Linked DNA regions of Homo sapiens: region 1 is linked to region 2. The links come from fine-mapping of genetic effects on gene expression. Tissue or cell type: whole blood. Region 2 holds a variant in brackets; the other region holds the start of a gene. All regions are shown on one strand. Distances are from middle to middle.

Evidence for each region. PIP is the estimated chance that this variant, and not a neighbour inherited with it, causes the effect.
Region 1: DDX56 starts here. The variant in region 2 is fine-mapped to the expression of DDX56 in whole blood (TOPMed, PIP 0.96).

The regions. Positions count from the first base shown.
Region 1 is chr7:44,569,189-44,577,290 of GRCh38, forward strand. It overlaps DDX56 (DEAD-box helicase 56), which reads right to left and starts at 4,720. Exons shown (of 14, transcript NM_019082.4): 1 at 4,648-4,720; 2 at 4,395-4,556; 3 at 3,702-3,862; 4 at 3,386-3,556; 5 at 3,159-3,249; 6 at 2,304-2,548; 7 at 1,570-1,689; 8 at 827-940; 9 at 621-715; 10 at 1-15. The coding sequence starts at 4,707. RefSeq lists an enhancer at 4,337-4,486.
Region 2 is chr7:44,638,307-44,646,408 of GRCh38, forward strand. It overlaps OGDH (oxoglutarate dehydrogenase), which reads left to right. Exons shown (of 23, transcript NM_002541.4): 3 at 7,021-7,212. Among named protein-coding and RNA genes, the nearest start is that of OGDH, 36 kb to the left of the region's middle. RefSeq lists enhancers at 1-230, 76-195, 84-611, 676-825, 1,140-1,667 and 1 more. The variant C/G (reference allele first, on the strand shown) is at 3,474.

The DNA of each region.
Region 1 (8,102 bases), 69 kb before region 2:
TGGGGCCCCTGTTCTCTGTGGAGAAGAAAGCAGCGAGGGTCCCACAGGCTGAGGCCTTAGGATAGGGTCTTCATTGGAGGCCTCCTGCACCTCCCCCTTGGGGGAAAGCAGCAGGGGACCCACCGCCTTCCTGGGATGCCGAACATGCAGGTTAGCTGCACCTGGGCCTCTTACAGTGATGACCCATCTGTCCCCGTGTGTGGATGGGGGTGGCCTGTGTGGCCCCAAGCCCAAGAACCCGTCACCCACTCTCTTCTCCTCTCCCAAGGAGTACCCCATGGTATTCCTTGGGAGTCAAGGTACCCCCATGACGACGGCCACAGAGAGCAGTCCAGGACCACCCAGCACCCTGGGGTCAGGTGCTGTCCTGAGCTGTCACAGCAGCCTGTCAGGTCACTCAACGCTCATGAGGCAGACAGTAAACACAACTTTGGACAAATTACCTCAATTTGTTTATCTCTCAAGGGGGACAGTGCCTGCCACTCAGGGCAGAACAAGGATGGATGGTGGAAGTGGCCTGTCACACTATGTTGTGACCTCTGTCATCATTATCATGGAGTTTTAAAGCATTGTGGAAGAAGCCTGACCCTGGCCCAGGACCACAAGAGCCAGGCTCTTACCTCCACTGAGAAGCTCCTCAATCTTGCCTAAGTGGAACTGCTCCGTGGGAAGCACAAAGGTTAAGACTATGCCTGGGTTGTTAGCGCGTGCTGTCCTGCAAGGGAAGACAGTGCAGCTTGCATCTCCAACCCGCAGGCTCTGTCCAGCACACCCCAAGTCCCTCAGTGTGCCTACCATGCAGATGCCTGGGCCGTCACACTACTACCTGCCAGCTCGATGGATGTAGGCCTCAGGGGTTGGGGGAAGATCAAAGTTGAGCACAGCAGACACATGGTGGAAGTCTATGCCCCGGGCCACACCTGCTTCCGGATCAGAGGCCCTGCAGAGATAACTCAATGTCAGCCGGACCCTTCCTCTCCTCTGGGCACGTATTCACACGCTGAATCAGCAAAACTTCCTCTAAATGCCTGTAGATCATAAGACCCTGACATACAGAGGACTCTCCAACAATGGAACCGTTCCAGGAGTCAGGGTTTCCTGGGGCAGCCTGGAGCTTTGACATGTACCCAAATCTCGGCCTGACCTCTGTTCTGGGACAACAGCAGAACTCATTGCCCTACATGGTGATCTGAAAACCAACTCTGAGCTAGTCAAGCCTTCAGCTGGACAGAGACTGGAGAGTTGGGGGGTTCCTTTTCCCTTCAGAAATATGCTCCCTGCAAGTCACAGCCATACCACCAATGCAGGATGGGCCATCTCCCCTGCAGGGCTCTGCATGCCAACAACCCCGGCAGTTTTGCCCTTCGTGGTGCATGTGCAGTGTGCACCATCCACTCCCTTCTCTATATCCAGGCAGCTGAGCAAGAACCTGTGGGGCTCTCTGGGCTACACTACCAGCCAGGCCTGGAAGGTTTGGCTCCCTGCTCTGTGCACTCTGGTTTTAGTCTTCCAAAAAGCTAAAAACACAGGCATTTCTGGGGAGGGATGGAAAAAGAGGCATGGACTCACTTGTCCCCTTTGGGCCCTCGGCCCCGACGCTTGCCCTTGACTGGGGCCCCCAGGACTTCAGCATCAGTTGCTATGACACAGTCGTAGAAGCCTTGGTTGAACTGTGAGATGATGTGGCACCTGCAGCCAAGAGCGGACAGAGAATCAGCTCAGCAGAGCAAGCTCAAGGCCCCTCTGCCATCCCTAGTATCACAGTAACCATCACCCTTTCCTTTTTCCTCTTCTTAATCTCTTTCCCTACTTAATCATTGTGCCTCAGTTTCCTCAGCTGGAAATAATTATAGGGTTTTGTTTTTTTGAGACAGAGTTTCACTCCTGTTGCCCAGGCTGGAGTGCAATGGCACGATCTTGGCTCACTGCAACCTCCACCTCCCGGGCTCAAGCAATTCTCCTATCTCAGCTTCCTGAGTAGCTGGGATTACAGGTGCCTGCCACCATGTCCAGCTAATTTTTGTATTTTTAGTAGAGACGGGGTTTCACCATGCTGGCCAGGCTGGTCTTGAACTCCCGACCTCAGGCGATCCGCCCACCTCGGCCTCCCAAAGTGCTGAGATTACAGCAGGCATAAGCCATGGTGCCCGGCCATGATAGGTATTTTGGAGTTGGGAGAAGTCAGTATCAGTCACATCTAGAACCTGGCCCCTACTAAGTGCTTAAGAAACAGAACATTAACTGGGTCCCCTTTCCATCTCTATCTTCAACTTATTTCAACCAAGATGTTGGCTGTGGCAGACCTGGAGCGCAGTGGAAGCTCTCCATTGAGCACACAGGTGGGGATGCTGAACTGTTCCAAGAACAGGCGTAGCCGGTAACTCCGTTCTAGAGTGTTGACAAAGAGCAGAGACTTGCCCCGAATCAATGACAGCTTGAGCAGGGCATACAGCAGGAGGAATTTGTCTTCCTCAGTCTCACAGACCACCTGAAACTGCTGTAACTGGTCTGGCCCAGGCAGCTGGGACTCCTGTAACTTAAGGGTAACCTGGGGGAGAAAACAGGCCTGTGGTCAGAAAGGAAAAGAACACAGAGATGTATGGCCACTTACTCACCAACCAAAGCATCAACATTTTAGTGCAGGGCAGAGATGCATTTAAGGATTCCTGGCACCCTAACTCTCCTCCAGTTTTGTAACCTAAAACCCCAAAATGCCCTTATTGTTGTGGTATATAGAGTATACCATATAAACCATATATAAAATACTTCCAAGCACAGAACAAAGAGAAACACATCAATAAAGGACTACATTGAGAAGGGAAGGCCTACAGCAACAGGCCTTCTGAAAGGTAAAGTTTACTTAAGATGAGAACCTTGGCCTTAGAATTTTGGCTCTGCTGCTCAAAGCTGCCCCTTAGGGGAGGTCCTTGCTCAGGATTTTAGGCAAAGCATGGCCTGAAATGGGAGACATCCCTTGTGGACACTTGGAAATATATAGTGATTTTAGACCACTGGCTTTTAGTGCCTCAGGACCAGGGATGAGACACTAAGTGACAACTGTCCCACCCAAAACACCAAAGAATCCCCTAAGAAGGAGCATCAAGATCTTTGAGTGCCCCCATGTCTGCAGCTCCAGACACTTCCATGGTGCCTCTTACCGGGTTATGTAATATCAGCTCCTTGAGTGCTTGTACGTCCTCGTTAAAAGTAGCTGACATGAGAAAAGCCTGGTAAATCCGGGGCAAGTGACTGAAATGAAAGAATCCAATCAGATTCCAGCTCCAAGGGCCGCTAATTGTAGTAACTGGCTTCCAGCCACCCCGCTCTCGTCCCAACTCCTACTCACAGATGTTTCCACTAGGAATCACACCCACCTCTGCCTTACCAGAGGAGACTCTTGAGCTCTTCTTCAAAGCCAAAGGAAAAAAGAAGGTCAGCTTCGTCCACCACCAAAAGCTCCAGGGAGTCACGAAGTTTCAGGCTGTCTTGCTGCAAGTGGCTTAATATGCGAGATGGGGTCCCTACTACCACATCTGGCTTCTCCATCAGCACAGCTCTGGAGGTGGACAAGACATCAGTATCAGGCAGAATGTAGCAGCTGGGATCTCACCCTGGATTTGCTCTCTTTTTTGCCACACACAAACCCAACCCCACAACACTGTGTAGCTTCATTCAGGTACAGCTTTGCTGCTTTTACCCACCTCTGAGAGACTGAGTCTTCAGCAGCTGAGACATTGGCCACTCGGACATCCCGAGCACAGTAGGTAGCCAGCTGCTGAATCATGGACTGTGCTTGCCGTGCCAGCTCCTTGGTAGGAACAAGAACAAGGCCTCTCACTGCCTGTTCTACCACCGGACCTGTCTGTAAGAATATGAATTAAAGACTTTAGCCAGCAGTGCACATCACTGTGTCCACGTGTCTCTACCCCTTCCAGCCTACCTGACCCATCTGCTGCAACACTACTTAGCAGTACTTTGATCATCTATCACTCTGCCCGCCTCAGAATGCAGAGTGGAGAGTTCTTTCCCCAGGCACTGACCCTCAAAAAGAATAACGTACTCTGATGTTTATGAAGCTACTTTAAATATACTAGTTATGAAGCTAAATTCTCACAATAATTCTGTAAGTAGAAAAGATAGATGTGCTCCCTTTTTATGTAAGAAAGAAAAGAAAGTGCTTTGTCGAAGATTACGCAAAGGTTGGTGGTAGCAGGGCCGGACAAGGATCCAGGTAACCTGAACTCCAGCCCAGAGTGTTTGCCACAACAGCACCAGGTTCTCAGGCCGGCCTGCACGGGTACAGGGCCAAGAGAAAACCTCAGACAAACGGGAACCGCCCTTCCCAGGCTTTTGGAGCTTGCCTCCTTCCTCCCCTCAGCTCTCTCGTTACCCACCGCCTTCCTATGGAGCAACAGCTGCAGCATCGGAATAGCATAAGCGGCCGTCTTCCCGGAGCCCGTGCGGGCCCGAGCCAGGAGGTCCTTCCCTTCTAGGGCCAGTGGGATGGCCTTCTCCTGGATCAGCGTAGGTCGCGACCAGCCCAGATCGGTGACAGCCTAGGAGACCAGGAGTGCGGTTTAAGCGGCGTGAAGAGCGATGGCGCGCCCCGCAGAGCCCGTAAGCCGGCTCCCCAGCCCTCGCGTGTACCTGAAGGAGCCGGGGATCGAGGCCCATGTGTTCGAAGCCCAGTGCTTCAGAGTCCTCCATGGCGCTGCTCAGTAGCGCAGCACGCACGCGCTGCAGGAAAAACGCCACCGACGCGAGCGGGAGCAAAGCAACAACCAATCGGCTTCGGAGACGAAGTCACTTCCCGGAAGTGCTGGCGGCCTAGGCTTCCGGTACTCGGACGGAGCTCTGCGACTGCGCAGTCCCTAGGACTGGGTCTAGTAGGAGGCGGTGGAGCGGCCGTGCTGGGGTCGACGGGGTACTTTGGACTACAGAGCCGCTCCACTGGCTCTTCCGGCGTTCCCGGACGCCGCTGACGCACCTGATTCTCGCGACCTGCAGGAGAAGCCTCGGCCGGGGCGAGGGCCGAGGTCGTGACGGGCATGACCGTCTCTCTGCTTGGTTAGGGTTAGTGTCCCGCCGGGCACATCACCCTATGAATGGAGCCACTGAGATAGACTGGGCTGAGGAGAACCGGTTGGAATAATGAGCCATGGCAGCAACTGCCTGAGAGAGAGGACCGGCGGGTTGCTGTAGGGCTCCCTAACCGGACTGCCTGTCAGAAACCTGCACAGCTTGGTTTCTGTTCTTTGTGTCCCAAATCTGACTCGGGTCACCAGTTAAGACCCGTGTCAGACTTCTGACCTACAGACTTGCGTCGTTTTAAGCCAGTAAATTTGTGGTAATTTGTTACAGTAGCAATAGGAAAATAATACAGGTGAGGACTAAGAATCCTAATCACAAATCTTTTTTTTTTTTTGAGACATGGTCTGACTGTCACCCAGGCTGGCGCGATCTCAGGCTCAAGTGGTCCTCCCACCTCAGTCTCCTGGAAAGCTAAGACTACAGGCACGCACCACCACGTCCAGTTAGCGTGTATGTATGTATGTACGTACGTGTGTGTGTGTGTGTATGTGTATATATGTAACTCCTCCTCCCCTCCCCCCTCCCCTTCTCTTCTTTTCTTTCTAGATGGGGTTTCGCCACGTTGCCCAGGACGGTTTTGAACTCCTGGGGCCAAGCGATCTGCCTTCCTCGGCCTCCCAAAGTGCTGGGATTGCAGGTGCGAGCCACTGCTCCTGGCCCATAAGTCTTTCAGTGTAGAAGAGGGAAGCAGAAGAGGTCAAAGTGGTGCCATGTGAGAGCTCAACCCACCCTTGCTGGAGGAAGGGAGCCAGAGCCAAGCTGGAAAAGGCAAGGAAACAACCTTTGTGATTACATTAGGCCCATCCAGATGATCCAGGATAATTTATTTTACAGTCATCTGATTAGCAACTTAATTCTCTTCTGTCATGTTAGGTAACATATTCATATGTTTCAGAGTGGTAGGCCATTATTCTACCTACCATACCACCCAACACAAATCTACATTAAGACTATATCTGAGTGTTGCACAGGAATCTATGTCAACAAGCTTCCAGGATGATCCTGTGCATCCTATCTGATGCAGCCCAGCATCTGAGTACCAGAGACTAGCATCTGGCTGTTAGGTTAGGAGAGATCAGCTCATGCACCAACAGGTAGTCATGCTGGGACCAAATGATGAAGATAGGTACAACTAGTCCCAGTGAGAGCTGGGGAATTGGGCTGGGATAATAGAGGATGTTAAGAATGGAGTGTCCCCTCAACCCCAGAACTTTTTTTTCTTTTTTTGTGGTAAGGAGGGAGAAGGCTGTTTGGTAAGGATGTTGTAAACTCTGAGAAAGCAAGAATTTCAAAAGTCAAGGGTAGTATTGGGGGGAAAATCACTAGAATTTGTGTGTGTGTACCCTAACTACTGTTTTGGTTTTGTTTTTGTTTTTTAGAAGGAGTCTCACTCTGTCGCCCAGGCTGGAGTGCAGTGGCATGATCTCAGCTCACTGCAAGCTCCACCTCCCGAGTTCACGCCATTCTCTTGCCTCAGCCTCCCGAGTAGCTGGGACTACAGGCACCTGCCACCACGCCCGGCTAATTTTTTGTATTTTTAGTAGAGACAGGGTTTCACCGTTGTTAGCCAGGATGGTCTCGATCTCCTGACCTTGTGATCCGCCCGCCTCGGCCTCCCAAAGTGCTGGGATTACAGGCGTGAGCCACCGCGCCCAGGCCCTAACTGCTGTTTTTTAAAAAACTTTTTAGGTCACAACCTATCTGTAAATATGACACACCAGTATGGAAATCCTTATTCTTCTCACAGCCACCAGCTATTGGCCCATCCACTGACTATCCCAATTCCACCTGCCTTATCAGTGGAAAGGTGAAATGTATGCCCACTTTTTCCTCACACCATTCCCCTTTCTATCAAAAACTACCAAGAGAAACCCAGGACCTACCAAAATAGTTAAGATGTGCTCCACTGTGTCTACTGCCAGCCAAACCTGTTGAAGGCTGGCTCAACCCTAATCTGTGCCTTCCTGTCTTCTCACAAACGTAGTCTGATTTGCTGGCTAGATTTCTAGTAACAGCCACAGAGCAGAAATGTGTCCCTTCCCAATATGTCACATAATCCCCAAGAGCCTCAGGCCAGAAGTCCACAACATGTAACTAGTTCAAAGGATAAAATTTTTCTCTGCATTAATTCTAACATGAGGAATACTGAAAACTCTTTTAAACATCTGAAGAATTTCAGCAATTCACAATTCACCTTACTGGAGTGTTACACTGTCATCCAGATTTAGAAACAGGAGGATATAAAACTATTAAATGGAAAAGCCTAGAGAACTAAATTGCATTTTTTTTTTTTTTTCTGAGACAGAGTCTCCCTCTGCCCCCCAGGCTGGAGTGCAGTGGCTCGATTTCTGCTCACTGCAACCTCCTCCCGGGTTCAAGCGATTCTCCTGCCTTAGCTTCCTGAATAGCTGGGATTACAGGCACACACTACCATGCCTGGCTAATTTTTATACTTTTAGTAGAGAGGGGTTTTCACCATGTTGGCCAGCCTGGTCTCAAACTGCTGACCTCAGGCGATCCCCCTGCCTTGGCCTCCCAAAGTGCTGGGATTATAGGCGTGAGCCACCCCACCTGGCCCTAAATTGCATTTTTTTTTTTGTTTTTTTTTTTCAGATGGGATCACTGTTGCCCAGACTGGAGTGCAGTGGCACGATCATGGCTCACCGCAGCCTTGACCTCCCGGGCTCAAGTGATCTTTCCACCTCAGCCTCTCAAGTAGCTGGGACTATAGGCATGTGCCACCAGCTAAATTTTTTGTATTTTTTGCAGAGACAAGATTTCGCCATGTTGCCCAGGCTGGTCTCGAACTCCTGGGCTATAGGGATCCACCCACCTTGGCTTCCCAAAGTGCTAGGATTACAGGCGTGAGCCACCGTGCCCAGCCCACATGTATTTTTAAGAGTAAAAATAGCCAGGCACAGTGGAGTATACCTGTAGTACCAGCTACTTGGGAGGGTAAGGTAGGAGGATCACTTGAACCTGGGAGCTCAAGGTTGCTTTGAGCTGTGATG
Region 2 (8,102 bases):
TGAGCCAAGTACTAAAGTAAGGCCCAAATACCACACTTACTTCATAAAGAAACCAAAGTCTGACTGCCTCCATTTCTCATGAGTGAAAAACTGTTTCTATTATAGGAAACTTAGGTCTTCAGTGTGTTTGATGGTAGCATGCTATTAGATTGTGTATTCTCAAGTCTGATTTTCCCCATTACTGTGCTTTCTCCTTTTCACTTCTGCTTTGTCACTTGGAATGTTTCTAGAAGTAGAAGTCACTGCCCCTGCCTACATCAGACTGCAATTCCGGGACATCCAGGCAACAGCAAGGGATAATTAGGAATAAATTTGGCTGGAAGAAAGGGAAAATGCAGCTTAGGCAGCCTAAACCAACAGGCTTATTTTTCTCACTCAGTAAGAGAGCTGAGGTCGCCTGACTCAGCTCAGGTTCTCAGTGAGCCATCAGCCACCAGGTGCCACCTTTCAGTGAGTGGGCTTCTATCCCTTCCAGGTGTCTCTTCATGCTCCATGGGAATTAGATGGGACATGCTTTGACTCTCTCTTCCAGAAGCTTTCTCTTCTTTTTGAAGGGGCTTCTGTTTGCGCTGGGTGGTCAATGACTCAGCCTAGTCTTGATTTATCCCCCAGGATGGGGACAGACAGCAGGGGAGAGATCTCAGGTTGAGATGAGTGTACAGTAAGGGCTGGGAGTATCAGAAGGGGAAACGCTCTCCCAGATAGTGACAAAGCTAAGCGACCATGTGAAGGGAGAGGACAAACATCCCATGGAAAGAAGGGTAGCTGCCAGGCCTGCGGGAAGGAAGGAGCATGATGCTGGGGCATGGGAGCAAGTGGACAGGGAGGGCTCTGCAGGTCCCCTGGAACCTAAAGCCAGGGGTTATGGAAGGCAGATCCAGATTCAGGTGTTCAGAGGATGAGGCAGGGGTGGGTAGTTTAAGGAGCTGGAGAAGAGGTATCTCCTTGGGGAGTGGAAGATGTTAGAGAGATACAGGGTTGCAGGACAACAGGGAGGTGGAAAGAGAGTGGGGGATGGACTGTGGCATCTGGGCCCCACCAGGAAGGAAGTGGCCCCATTGGTGACTCATACAGGGAGGGGTGGGGCCAGTGGGTGCCTGGGAGCTCTGGTACTTGGGCAGGTCTGGCTTCCTGCTGCCACATCTGTTGGGAGGTGAAGCCTGCAGGCCAAATAATGACCTTCATTTTCAAAGCCTTTTTGAATAAATAAACTTTTTTGAGGTTTAACTTACATATATTAAAATTCACTTGTTTTAAGTGTTTAGTGCAGTAGGTTTTGCCAAATGTGTGCAGTCACTACACTCGATACAAAACATTCTATCACTCAATTCAAAAACCTTTTAGTATACCTCCAGGTCTTGGCGCAAAGAGGGCTTGCTGTTGTTGGGTGTGGGGGCTCACCCAGTCCTGGAGACAGAATGGGCTCTTTGTCTGAAGGTGGGGCAGGGTGCTCCCCCAGTGGTGTGGGAACTGAGCCAACTGGAGAGTGAAGTGGGATGCATGGTGTAAGATGAATAAGGGAAAGGCTGCAGAAGTTGCATTCCCAGCATTTTCCTTCCCGGGGATTCCCAGCAGCTCAGCAGTACCGGTATGAACCAGTTTTTTTCTGACTGCCTCCAGCATGAGCTGAATTTCCGTCTGTGCAGTTATCCTCAGCCAATTGAAAATCACCTGGAGTTGTATTCCAAGCACAAAAGAAGGTCAGAGAGTGGAGGCCCGATGATCATGATCGCCCTGTCTCCAGGGCCTAGGCTGGAAGGAGTCCTGCAGCCTTTGTGGCTCAGGACCAGAGAGCTGACCTTGACCCTGACCTTGTGATCCCAGGCATCAGTGGCTGGAAATTCCTTTCATTTTATTGTTGAGCCCAGAAGCGCCCAGCTCTCTTTGGCAAGGTTAAGCTAGGGTAAGAGGCACTGTTACTAGAGTGACCAGAGTTCTTTAAGCGTCGCTCTGCTATTACTCAGTTAACCTTATTAATACCCTGCCTGGTGACTGCTGTGTGTAAATTCTGCCTGAGCCCACATCTCTCCAGTGGGAATATGATTGACATTCCAGGTGCTCTAAGTAAGTTGGAAAAGCCCACAGAGAGCCTCAGTAAAAGTTAGCTATACCTATCCCTGCTGCTATTGGTGGGTTTTTTTTGTTTTGTTTTGTTTTACTATTTTAATTGTTATTCAAAGCTAATTTTATTGAAAAGAAGTAAACTTGTGATTTTGCTATGACTTTTGGCTCTGGATCCAAAAGTGAATATTGTCCCCTAGGATAAAGGAGGCTGTCTGTACAGCTGGAGAGACTCTTGATCTAAGGTCTTGCTCTTGGGTGACTTTGCCCTGTGTTTCTGGACACTTAATGGGTTTTACGAAATAGAAGAAAATGTTTTAGGGGTTTAATAAAGTTTGGGTTGTGCTGTTCTCCAGTACTTACTGGGTTTGAGGGTCATGCCCTATCCATGAACCTGTTGTGGCCCCAGGGAACTAAGTAAGTGTCTACAGCTAGACTTGGGGTGCGGGTCACATGGTGTGAGGGTAGACATTCTAGCACTGGAGCAAGTTTGGGGTAAAGAAAAATTTTGATTAGGTTTTTTGTGGGTTTTTTTTTTTTTCTTTGAGACAGAGTCTCGCTCTGTCGCCAAACTGGAGTGCAATGGCATGATCTCAGCTCACTGCAACCTCCGACTCCCTGGTTCAAGTGATTGTCCTGCCTCAGCCTCCTGAGTAGCTGGGATTATAGGCACACACCACCACCCCCAGCTAATTTTTGTATTTTTTTTTTTTTTAGTAGAGACAGGGTTTCACCATGTTAGCCAGGATGGTCTCGATCTCCTAACCTCGTGATCCGCCCGCTTCAGCCTCCCAAAGTGCTGGGATTACAAGCATGAGCCACCAAGCCCAGCCTTTTTCTTCTTTTTTTTTTTTTTTCTTTTTTTTTTTTTTTTTGGAAACAGGGTGTCACTCTGTCGCCCAGGCTGGAATACAATGGTGCGATCTCAGCTCACTGCAACCTCTGCCTCCCAGGTTCAAGCGATTCTCATGCCCCAGCCTCCCAAGTAGCTGGGACTACAGGCCTGCACCACCACACCCAGCTAATTTTTGTATTTTTAGTAGAGACGGGGTTTCACTATGTTGGCCAGGCTGGTCTCGAACTCCTGATCTCAGGTGACCCACCCACCTTGGCCTCCCAAAGTGCTGGGATTACAGGCATGAGCCACTGCGCCTGGCCTGATTAGGTTTTACGTGACAGTGGTAGCTTGCTGTTGGTTCTTGCTGTGCAGGGGTGGGATACAGCCAGACTGACTCCTGCTCAGTTTCCTGCTGTATTCAAGGGGTTTCTCCTTTTAGGTCAGGTCCTCAGTTATTGGAGGCCTGGGTAGAGGCCAAGAAGTGCAGTCATTGGTCATCCCTGCTTTCACAATGAAGATGGATGTCCAATGCATGTGGTCCCCAGTCATCTCTGCTTCTAGAATGTATGGAGCT[C/G]TCAGTCCTGCTGGAAAAGCTCCATGAAGTCAGAAGTACCTGAGGGTGTCCAGTGTATTTGTGCACAGCCACCTTTTAGATCCCTGTGTCCTTGACAGAACCAGTCATGGACTGAGTGGGAGGCAGCCTTTACTTTGCCTAGGGAGTTGATGCTGAGACATCCTCTGTTTTCTCTCCTAAGAGTAAGTCAGTTTTTTCCTCTGGTGGAAATACTGCCTTTTCTCATGTTGGAGGAGAACACTGAGTTTTCATGAGAACCGATTTAATGGAGGAAGGTGAGAATCTCTTTGGAGATTCCAAACCCTGGGTTTCTTTAGCAAACATTTTGATAGCATCTGTTGAAAAGGAAAGTTTAGGCCCAGATGGTGGCTCATGCCTATAATCCTTGCACTTTGGGAGGCTGAGACGGGCAGATCAGTTGAGCTCAGAAGTTCAAGAACAACTTGGGCAACATGGTGAAACCTCATCTCCACAAAAAAATATTTAGTAAAAAAATTAGCCATGCGTGGTGGTGCGTGCCTGTGGTCCCAGCTACTCAGGAGGCTGAAGCAGGAGAATCACTTGAGCCCCGGAGGTGGGGGTTACATTGAGCCAAGATCGTGCCAGTCTACTCCAGCCTGGGCAGCAGAGCCAGACCCTGTCTCAAAAAATAAAAAAGAAAGAAAAGGAAAGTTTGCAGCCTTTTTTCATGTTCCTGATTGTTGGGTTACATTTGTATAAGATGCTTCTGTAATAGGTTTTGTGGGAGGTGCCAGAAGAGAACCCCAAATCTGTCTTCTACATCAGACAATACACCAGAAATTAACCAGAAAGGTAAAAACCGTAAAACCTCAAATAGTTTGATTTGTAAAAACATTTTAAAGGCCAGGTGCAGTGGCTTACGCATGTAATCCCAGCACTTTGGGAGGCCAAGGCGGGTGGATCACAAGGTCAGGAGTTCGAGACCAGCCTGGCCAACACAGTGAAACCCTGTCTCTACTAAAAATACAAAAATTAGCTGGGCATGGTGGCAGGCGCCTGTAATCCCAGCTACTCGGGAGGCTGAGGCAGGAGAATCGCTTGAACCCAGGAGGCAGAGGTTGCAATGAGCCGAGATTGCACTACTGCACTCCAGCCTGGGCAACAGAGCTAGACTCTGTCTCAAAAAAAAAAAAAATTTTTAAATATAATTCACATAACATAAATGTAATTATTTGGCCTGGTCCTGGTGACTCACAACTGGATTCCCATCACTTTGGGAGACTGAGGCAGGAGGATTGCTTGAGGCTGGGAGTTTGAGACCAGTTTGGGCAACAGAGCAAGACCCTGTTTCTTTAAAAAAAAAAAAAAAAAAAAAAAGTCATTTTTTAAGTGTACCATTCAGTGGAGTTTTGTTTTTAACAGATGGGTTCTTGCTGTATTGCCCAGGCCAGCCTTGAATTCCTAGGCTTAAGTGATCCTCCTGCCTCTGCTTCCCAAGTGACTGGGACTACAGGCACATGCTACTACACCCAGCTACAGTGGTTTTTAGTATGTTCACAATACTGTGCAGTCACATCTCTGGTGGTTGTTTTCTTTAAGTTATTTTTTCTGAATACCAAAAAATACATGCTTATTATAGAATGTTTTAAATATTCTACAAAAAAGAAAAAGGGAAGGAAAAAAAAAGTATTCCACAAAACTCCCCTCAAAAACAGATTTCACTGAGAGATCAGACTCCCCTGCATGAGGCAGATGGTCCAGGCCTGTGCATTATCATTGTGTCTTTTCTAGTTTGTGTCTAGCAGCAGTATATAGCAGTGCTCTTGGTAGTGGGACCATCTGAGTGACGTACATCTGTGCCCTAGCCAGCATTATAAAAGAACCTGTCTGAAAAAAACAGAAGACCTTAAGGACCAGCATACTGGATTCTGTAGCCATCTCTACCTTCTGGTCTCCAGACTCAGACAGACCCATTTGATATCCAGCCATGTCCCAGACAAGGAGCACATCTGGGTGGCATCTTGTTAGAAGGAGAATGCAAAGATCTCATAAAGTTTTGCCTTGCCTCTCCAAGTTTTTCAAGACAGTCTTATCAGAGTTTATTGATGGAAGAATTTTAGAGGCTGGAAAAGGTATTGCAGAAAAGAAAAACAATGTTTCTATTTTTTTTTTAAACTGATGTTTTGCCAGGCGCGATGGCTTACGCCTGTAATCCCAACACTTTGGGAGGCCAAAGCAAGTGGATCACTTGAGGTCAAGAGTTTGAGACCAGCCTGGCCAACATGATAAAACCCCATCTCTACTAAAAATACAAAAATTATAAGCCTGGTGGCGTGCTCCTGTAATCCCCGCTGCTCAGGAGGCTGAGGCAGGAGAATCACTTGAACCCGGGAGGTGGAGGTTGCAGTGAGCCAAGATCATGCCACCACACTGCCTGGGCAACAGAGCGAGACTTCATCTCAAAAAAATTAAAATAAACTGATGTTTAATTGTGCTTTTCTTTTCTTTTTACAATGAACTTTTGTGAAGTCTTAGTATGTCTGATCTCTTAAATATTTTAAAAACTTGCATCTTTGTATGAGATGAATAAACCATTACAGTTCACAGTATCTGCAAATTGTAAATCAAATAATTCAGACATGGAATAGCCAAAAATAGTAGGAATATAAGTAAATTAGTTTATAGTTTTTCTAAGGAAATTCAAACTGATAACTAACACCTGACTTTGTGAAGTATTAGACTGTGTGCTAATGCCTTTAACTAGGGTAGTCTTTACAGCATACCTATGAAGAATGTATATATTTCTCTCCTCATAGATGAGAAAACAGCACAGAAAGGTAACTCACTAAGAGCCTACCTCTTGAATTTGAATTTTGATCCCTGACACAGAGATCAGATTTGAATTTCCATCTCTGACCCCACACTTTGAGCTCTTAGCTCCTGAGTTTCTCCTGAGGTAGCAATGATATTATTTCTCTGTGGGGTTAGTGCTGCCTCTTACAAAGGATCAGGTTCCACTTTGTTCCCAGGGAAGTGAAAGGACATGAGCAAGGTGACCCTGGGCTCTTCACAGGTTGTGCTGAGCCCTTGGGGCCTTGAGGGAGGTGTTTGATGGGGTGTTTGATCCCACAGAAAAACTGGTAGAGTTTGCAGACCTATAGACAGAAGGTCAAGAGATCACCTCCCAGGTGCTGGGGCCGGGGGGAAGGCTGAGACAGTAAGTGTCTCTGTTGACCTACATCCTGAATCTGTCCCCAGGCCCAGTGAATAGGAACTGAGGAGAGCTGTTGGCATTGGGCCTTTGGGTTATGTGTGTTGATGGAAGGCGGCCACAGGGCATCTGTGTTATAGCTGTGGGGGTCAGAAAGTGCATCCCGAAGACAAAAGTTGTGGAAAGCAGGGAGCCTGAATGCTGAGAGAAACCCACCGTTTGGGAACAGACAGAGACCCCACTGTCCAGGAGGAAGCAGGCTCAGCCAGCCTATGGTAGACTTGCCTTGCCTGCAGAGAGCAGTTCTCTGTGGCCACAGATGCATCCTGGACTTAGGGGAGCAGTGAGGTAACCCTGTACCTTCTTTGTCTTTAGTCATGGGACATTTTTTTTCGCAACACGAATGCCGGAGCCCCACCGGGCACTGCCTACCAGAGTCCCCTTCCCCTGAGCCGAGGCTCCCTGGCTGCTGTGGCCCATGCACAGTCCCTGGTAGAAGCACAGCCCAACGTGGACAAGCTCGTGGAGGACCACCTGGCAGTGCAGTCGCTCATCAGGGCATATCAGGTAAGGCGGGTGCTTTACCCGCACACGGGAAAGGGTGCAGTGTTCCTTAGGTCATGCCTCATGGGCCCTATTGGCCTTTCTGAGTGTATGTTGTCACTTTACTTATACCTCCTCAAATACTAGGTGCTTTCTCCCTGCTTTGGGAGGCTAAAAAACAAATACACAAGAAAAAGAACCAGGCTAGCCCTATTTGAGCAAATCTCCCAGCACCACTAATGCCTGCCTTATAAAAGGGATCCTTATTTCCTTTCCTTCCTTGGCAAGAAATATTTGTGGGCAGGGAAAACAAGTCAGTACCCGGGCATCAAGGAGAAGTGCTGCCCATCTGCCAGTGAGCAGTGACTGGGAGGGGTGGTGCTTTTGGGTGGTTGATGCCCCCTTCTCAGTTGCTAACAACTGAATACTATAAGAGAAGAAAACCATACTATAGAGTTTGGGGATGTGGAGGCAGGGAGAGGCAGCTGAGGGTACAGCTGAGCCTACAGAGAGTGATGAGGGGCAGGGGAACTCTCCAAAAGTATTGCAGTTAGTGGCCAGTCTCGTTAGGCAAGTGTTGAGCAGGACAAGGTTTTTCCCCCCATCCTTTCCCAGAGCACAATAACCAAAGTTTTTCTAGGATGTCCACCTGATACATGGGGAGAGCCTAGAGTTCAGATCTTAAGACTTCATCTGTGATAGTTCTAAGGACGACAGGTAGAGACAAGTGAGCCTGGTGCTTCCCTTCTGGAAGCTCCCATGGGCATCCAGGACCCTGCCACCTGTTCTTGTGTAACTGCTTTGGTGGCAACAAGGGGACTCATGTCCCTGGGCTGTCTTTTCTCTCATGCTTTGGTTTCTGGTGGCATGGGCCATGGGCAGGTGTTGTAATGGGGCAACATAGGGGAGGTCCT